Homo sapiens: one gene and its partner. The protein of the gene in region 1 interacts with the protein of each later gene in a biochemical or structural test. Each region holds a gene or a part of one and is shown on either strand. Other genes may lie near its edges.

Region 1 (3,909 bases):
CAGGATCTTTTGTTTTTTTTTCTCTCTCTCTCTTCCTTTTGAGACAAGGTCCTGCTCTGTCACCCAGGCCGGAGTGCAGTGGCGTGATCTCCACTCACTGCAACCTCCACCTCCTGGGCTCAAGCGATTTTCCCACCTCAGCCTCCCCAGTAGCTGGGATTACAGGCTCAAGCCACTGCCCCCCGCTAATTTTTGTATCTTTTTGGGTAGAGATGGGTTTTTGCCATGTTGCCCAGGCTGGTCTTGAACTCCTGGGCTCAAGCCATGTGCCCGCCTTGGCCTCCCAAAGTGCTAGGATTACTGGCGTGAGCCACCTTACCTGGTGGGGCACAGGATTTTAAATTAAATTTTTTTTTTTTTAATTTTTAGAGACAGAGTCTTGCTCTGTCGCCCAGGCTGGAGTGCAGTGGCATGATCTTGGCTCACTACAATCTCTGCCTCTAGAGTTCCGGCGATTCTTGTGCCTCAGCCTCTCTAGTAGTTGGGATTACAGGCGTGCACCACCACACCCAGTTAATTTTTTCTATTTTTAGTACAGACAGGGTTTTGCTATGTTAGCCAGGCTGGTCTTGAACTCCTGGCCTCAAGTGATCTGCCTGCTTTGGCCTCCCAAAGTGCTGGGATCACAGGCGTGAGCCACTGCGCCTGGCCTAAATTTTTCGTCTTTAAGACGGGGTCTCTCTCTCTCTGTCATCCAGGCTGGAATGCAGTGGCACAATCATAGCTCACTGCAGCCTTGAACTCCTGGGCTCAAGTGAGCCTCCAGCCTCAACTTTCTAAGTAGCTGGGACTACAGGCTGATGCGACCATGCCCGACTTGGCACAGGATTTAAATATGGCCCTGGACAAGTCACTGGCCTTCTCTGGCCTTCCCAGGTAAGCTTGGACTTTCTGGGATGCTTCAAGTTCAAATCATCAGTGGTACAACTGTTGAACAATATGAGGAACGCTGCGGGTTACTGGGCCTGTGTGGACCCGTTTTGGATTCTAAGCTGGGTCCTGGGCAGAAGTTGGAGGCTGGGGCAGCTGCAAGCAGGACAGGCAGGTGGCCAGAGGGCCCAGCAGCTTCAGCACTGAGGACTGGACTGGGTCGCCACGCCCAAAGGAAGGATAATTACTCACCTCCCACTCAAGAAGCAGGCGGCAGAACTGTTTTGGAGAGCATGGCTTGGGGCCTGGGACCTATGTTCATGCGGTCCAGACGGAGATCCATGAGAGTTAAGACTCTTTCTAGATATCAGGTAGCACTTCTGATTACAAAACTTTTGCACATGGTCTCCTCTCTGCTTTACAACAGCTCAGGAAAGTAGGCCCAAACATCCACTTTAATAGATGAGGGAGCTCAGAGGGGGTAACCAACCCCTCCAGGTCACACAGCCAGGGAGGGGGTTGAGCCAAGGTTCAAACCACTGCCTCGGTTGTTGCAGATACATCCCTGCAGACACCTTTATTGAAGAGGGACCCTGAAGGCTGAACGGCCAACACAGAAGAGGAGGCACTTGGGAGTAAGGGTGATTTATGGCCCTGGGAGGGCCCAGTGCAGGTAGGATGGGAGCTAAGGTAAGGCTGGGCCATGCCTAGCTGCAAGCAAATTTCCTTAAAAAACAAACAACAAAAAACATTACTTTTTCTAAACCTAAAGTTTGTGGTGGCATTCAAGTCCCATCATAGCCCATCTATCCAGACTCATCTGCCTGGGATCCCCGTCTTGGGACTAGTGGTCACTGGCCTGCTTCCTGGTCAATTAGCTTCCGGGACTAGGGGGAGGTGTGAGGAGCCTAGAGTGCAAAATTTAAGAAGCACTCAGTCTCAGGGGCGTGCAGGTGCAGGGTAGCGACGGCAGGACTCTAAGAGTGAGTCTCTTTCCTCCCCGTTTCCCCGTCCTACTTTCACTCTAAGCATTTAGTTCCCAGGGGACAGAGACGACTTCTTCATTAGAAGACCCCGGGGGGTCCCCAGCCCGGAAGGGCTCACAGTTGGAGCTCAAACATTTGCCACTGTTCAGGCTCATCTTTCTTTCCCCAGTGAAAAATGGTCTAGGTTGGGAAGGGCAGGTTCCTGTCTACTGCGTGATCCAACCGATTCTGGTTCGCCCAATGTCTGGACTTGTCCTTTGCCAAGAATAAGCAGATGAGATGGGCGGATGAACCCCAATGTCCCTGCAAGATTCAGGAAGTCCCAGCCAGAAAGTAAAGGACGTTTAGTTCCATGTATTGTTTTCTTTTTTACATGCGGGGCAACACACCTGGACAGTGTCGATGGCTTGCTCCAAGCCACACGGCCGCATAGGGACAGGGACTGGGCTACATAACAAGTTCTTCGACGCTGTGATCTAATCAAGGAAAACCTGGGACGCAGCTAATAGATGCGCATCGAGTGTATCGACGCTCTAAGTACGAGGGCTGGAACAGTGAGCAGGATCAGTCCATTGCTTTTGCCTACCTGCTGAGCGCTGATTGGTCCCCGTTTAGGAAACGGAAAAAGGGGCGTGCACGCGGGCGCGGCTGCGTGAGAGGCGCGCGGCGGCGCAGTGAACAGTCTCCTTCCACAAAACCATGGCGTCGCTCAAATGTAGCACCGTCGTCTGCGTGATCTGCTTGGAGAAGCCCAAATACCGCTGTCCAGCCTGCCGCGTGCCCTAGTGAGCGGGGAGGTCGCGGGGTCCAGGGGCGCGGGTGTCCGGCCATGGCGGGAGGGCGGGAGGCCGGGAGGCCGGGCGGGAGCGGGCGGGCTGCTGGAGGGGCCGGGGACCCTCGGGGCTGACGCGGCCTGTGGCCTCTGTTGTTACAGCTGCTCGGTAGTCTGCTTCCGGAAGCACAAAGGTGAGCCCCGTCCCCGCCAGCCCTCGTACCACTGCGCACGGGGCAGCCCCCACGTCCAGCCTCCGTCTTGGGGGCGTGGACCCTTGGGCTGCGCTTCCTTTCCCGCCTCGGGTCTCCGCGGGTTCTGCAGGAACCTTGCTTCCTCTGACTTGGTCCCTGGTGTCTCTGTGTGTCGGACAGTTCCCTCTGTTGTCCCTGCCTGTAATCGCTCTCAGGGTTTTGGTCAGTAGCCTTTCTTCTACCCCGCTTCTCCTTCTGCGTGTTACTCTTTTTTGCTTAGAAATAGTTTCCGATTGCTTTTCCCACCGAGGTCTACCCTAGCAGTTTCTTCCTCAGTATTCTGATGTAGCCCCTCACCATTTGGCTGAAACTGCGCTAACTTTAACAGTATTTTCACTCGTGTAAATAATGTCTTGTTAGAAACAAAGAGGTAAGTCCATGTACAATACAAGGAGACGTCCTTGATTTGTTAAGAGAAAAAAAGAACCAAGTAAGTTCTGTGTATGATGTGAACACACTTTTGTACAGTTAAAAAGAAGTGACCTGGCCGGGCGCGGTGGCTCACGCCTGTGGTCCCGGCACTTTGAGAGGCCAAGGCGGGTGGATCACCTGAGCCCAGGAGTTCGAGACCAGCCTGGCCAACATGGTGAAACTCCGTCTCTACTAAAAATACAAAAATTAGGCGGGCGAGGTGCGCGCCTGTAATCCCAGCTACTCAGGAGGCTGAGGCAGGAGAATCGCTTGAACCCGGGAGGCGGAGGTTGTAGTGAGCCGAAATCGCACCACTGCACTCCAGCCTGGGCTACAGAGCCAGACTCAGTCTGGAAAAAAAAAGAAAAAAAAAAGTTTGATGTAGGTGGGGCGCGGTGGGTCACGCCTGTAATCCCAGCACTTTGGGAGGCCGAGGCGGGCGGATCATTTGAGCTCAGGAGTTTGAGACCAGCCTGGGCAACATAGCGAAACCCCGTCTCTATAAACAAACAAAGCCAGGCGTGGTGGCCTGTGCCAGTGGTCCCAGCTACTCAGGAAGCAGAGGTGGGAAGATCGCTTGAGCCTGGGAGGAGGAGGTTGCAGTGAGCCAGGATCG
Region 2 (3,909 bases), on another chromosome or scaffold:
CAGATGTGTGAGTGGCCCCGACCCAGGGGACAGGCAGGTGGGCAAACTCTGGGATTTTACCTTGCAAAGGGTGAGGATGGGGCTTAAGACAGGAGGCAGGAGAAAGTGGAGTCTAGAAGGTAGAACCAGGATGCAACAGTTTTCTGGGTTCCAGGGTAGGGAATAAAGGGCAAGATTGTCCATTTGTTGAGGCTGTTTATTCAGTAAGGTGACTGACAGCCTTTACTGAATGAAGCCATTGTTGGGATGAGGCAATCCACTGGATGAGGTAACCCATTGGGTGAAGATGTTCTTGGGTGAGAATTCCATTAGTTGACATTGTCCATTAAGTAAAAGTGGTCATTGAAGTAAGGCTGCACAGTTGGGTAAGGCTATCCATTAGACAATTAGATGAGACTACCCATTGGGTCAGGATGTCTGCTGGGCTAGACCATCCTCTGAAACCTCCAAAGTATAAACTTGTCATTGGGCAAAGCTCTTCAAAGGATAAGATTATCAATGGGATGAAGTGATCCACTGAGATAAGATGATATTTTACTGACATTGTTCTCAGGGAAAGTTTTCCATTGAACAAAGATGGCCAATTGGGTCAAATTTGCTCTCCAAACCTGCCATGAGAGTGAGGCCAATTAGTTTCTATTACTCATCTCCTAAATATCCAAGAAATGGTATTTTTTGAGCCAGCTGGTCCGGGGTTTCATCAACTGCTGCTCCTTCTCCCAGGAAAGACTATCCCTGTCACCCATCCCATTGCCGCTGGGGACAGCCAGGCCTGGGCCTTGGTTTGGGAGAAGCAGTCCAAGTCTGCATATCAAATAAATGATGGAGGAGATGGGTGGTAGGACCTTCCAGACCTCATAAAACTTAGGCTTTATGATCTGGGACTCACAGAAGGTTGAGCAATAAAAGACCTTAGGGATTATCTGGTTTAATTAATTCTCTCATTTTATAGAGGAAGAAATTAAGTCAAGGTGGGGCAGGGTGGGAGGGGAGAACTTTCCCGGGCCTCTTCATTTACTCCCACAAAGGCTGGAATTTTGAGCAGCCCCTGTCTGTCTGTTTGTCCTTCCAGCCACCCCTGAGACCCCACAGCCCTCACCGCCAGGTGGCTCAGGGTCTGAGCCCTATAAGCTCCTGCCGGGAGCCGTCGCCACAATCGTCAAGCCCCTCTCTGCCATCCCCCAGCCGACCATCACCAAGCAGGAAGTTATCTAGCAAGCCGCTGGGGCTTGGGGGCTCCACTGGCTCCCCCCAGCCCCCTAAGAGAGCACCTGGTGATCACGTGGTCACGGCAAAGGAAGACGTGATGCCAGGACCAGTCCCAGAGCAGGAATGGGAAGGATGAAGGGCCCGAGAACATGGCCTAAGGGCCACATCCCACTGCCACCCTTGACGCCCTGCTCTGGATAACAAGACTTTGACTTGGGGAGACCTCTACTGCCTTGGACAACTTTTCTCATGTTGAAGCCACTGCCTTCACCTTCACCTTCATCCATGTCCAACCCCCGACTTCATCCCAAAGGACAGCCGCCTGGAGATGACTTGAGGCCTTACTTAAACCCAGCTCCCTTCTTCCCTAGCCTGGTGCTTCTCCTCTCCTAGCCCCTGTCATGGTGTCCAGACAGAGCCCTGTGAGGCTGGGTCCAATTGTGGCACTTGGGGCACCTTGCTCCTCCTTCTGCTGCTGCCCCCACCTCTGCTGCCTCCCTCTGCTGTCACCTTGCTCAGCCATCCCGTCTTCTCCAACACCACCTCTCCAGAGGCCAAGGAGGCCTTGGAAACGATTCCCCCAGTCATTCTGGGAACATGTTGTAAGCACTGACTGGGACCAGGCACCAGGCAGGGTCTAGAAGGCTGTGGTGAGGGAAGACGCCTTTCTCCTCCAACCCAACCTCATCCTCCTTCTTCAGGGACTTGGGTGGGTACTTGGGTGAGGATCCCTGAAGGCCTTCAACCCGAGAAAACAAACCCAGGTTGGCGACTGCAACAGGAACTTGGAGTGGAGAGGAAAAGCATCAGAAAGAGGCAGACCATCCACCAGGCCTTTGAGAAAGGGTAGAATTCTGGCTGGTAGAGCAGGTGAGATGGGACATTCCAAAGAACAGCCTGAGCCAAGGCCTAGTGGTAGTAAGAATCTAGCAAGAATTGAGGAAGAATGGTGTGGGAGAGGGATGATGAAGAGAGAGAGGGCCTGCTGGAGAGCATAGGGTCTGGAACACCAGGCTGAGGTCCTGATCAGCTTCAAGGAGTATGCAGGGAGCTGGGCTTCCAGAAAATGAACACAGCAGTTCTGCAGAGGACGGGAGGCTGGAAGCTGGGAGGTCAGGTGGGGTGGATGATATAATGCGGGTGAGAGTAATGAGGCTTGGGGCTGGAGAGGACAAGATGGGTAAACCCTCACATCAGAGTGACATCCAGGAGGAATAAGCTCCCAGGGCCTGTCTCAAGCTCTTCCTTACTCCCAGGCACTGTCTTAAGGCATCTGACATGCATCATCTCATTTAATCCTCCCTTCCTCCCTATTAACCTAGAGATTGTTTTTGTTTTTTATTCTCCTCCTCCCTCCCCGCCCTCACCCGCCCCACTCCCTCCTAACCTAGAGATTGTTACAGAAGCTGAAATTGCGTTCTAAGAGGTGAAGTGATTTTTTTTCTGAAACTCACACAACTAGGAAGTGGCTGAGTCAGGACTTGAACCCAGGTCTCCCTGGATCAGAACAGGAGCTCTTAACTACAGTGGCTGAATAGCTTCTCCAAAGGCTCCCTGTGTTCTCACCGTGATCAAGTTGAGGGGCTTCCGGCTCCCTTCTACAGCCTCAGAAACCAGACTCGTTCTTCTGGGAACCCTGCCCACTCCCAGGACCAAGATTGGCCTGAGGCTGCACTAAAATTCACTTAGGGTCGAGCATCCTGTTTGCTGATAAATATTAAGGAGAATTCATGACTCTTGACAGCTTTTCTCTCTTCACTCCCCAAGTCAAGGGGAGGGGTGGCAGGGGTCTGTTTCCTGGAAGTCAGGCTCATCTGGCCTGTTGGCATGGGGGTGGGACAGTGTGCACAGTGTGGGGGCAGGGGAGGGCTAAGCAGGCCTGGGTTTGAGGGCTGCTCCGGAGACCGTCACTCCAGGTGCATTCTGGAAGCATTAGACCCCAGGATGGAGCGACCAGCATGTCATCCATGTGGAATCTTGGTGGCTTTGAGGACATTCTGGAAAATGCCACTGACCAGTGTGAACAAAAGGGATGTGTTATGGGGCTGGAGGTGTGATTAGGTAGGAGGGAAACTGTTGGACCGACTCCTGCCCCCTGCTCAACACTGACCCCTCTGAGTGGTTGGAGGCAGTGCCCCAGTGCCCAGAAATCCCACCATTAGTGATTGTTTTTTATGAGAAAGAGGCGTGGAGAAGTATTGGGGCAATGTGTCAGGGAGGAATCACCACATCCCTACGGCAGTCCCAGCCAAGCCCCCAATCCCAGCGGAGACTGTGCCCTGCTCAGAGCTCCCAAGCCTTCCCCCACCACCTCACTCAAGTGCCCCTGAAATCCCTGCCAGACGGCTCAGCCTGGTCTGCGGTAAGGCAGGGAGGCTGGAACCATTTCTGGGCATTGTGGTCATTCCCACTGTGTTCCTCCACCTCCTCCCTCCAGCGTTGCTCAGACCTCTGTCTTGGGAGAAAGGTTGAGATAAGAATGTCCCATGGAGTGCCGTGGGCAACAGTGGCCCTTCATGGGAACAATCTGTTGGAGCAGGGGGTCAGTTCTCTGCTGGGAATCTACCCCTTTCTGGAGGAGAAACCCATTCCACCTTAATAACTTTATTGTAATGTGAGAAACACAAAACAAAGTTTACTTTTTTGACTCTAAGCTGACATGATATTAGAAAATCTCTCGCTCTCTTTTTTTTTTTTTTT

Evidence for each region.
Region 2: the proteins of ZNHIT3 (region 1) and HNF4A form a complex in vitro, tested with the Homo sapiens proteins (one study listed by BioGRID).

The regions. Positions count from the first base shown.
Region 1 is NC_000017.11:36,484,145-36,488,053, forward strand, and holds the start of ZNHIT3 (zinc finger HIT domain-containing protein 3), read left to right. Parts: upstream 1-2,536; 5' UTR 2,537-2,555; coding exon 2,556-2,641; intron 2,642-2,790; coding exon 2,791-2,822; intron 2,823-3,909.
Region 2 is NC_000020.11:44,428,451-44,432,359, forward strand, and holds part of HNF4A (hepatocyte nuclear factor 4-alpha), read left to right. Parts: coding exon 1-37; intron 38-1,072; coding exon 1,073-1,215; 3' UTR 1,216-3,909. UniProt on the Homo sapiens protein: Transcriptional regulator which controls the expression of hepatic genes during the transition of endodermal cells to hepatic progenitor cells, facilitating the recruitment of RNA pol II to the promoters of target genes. Activates the transcription of CYP2C38.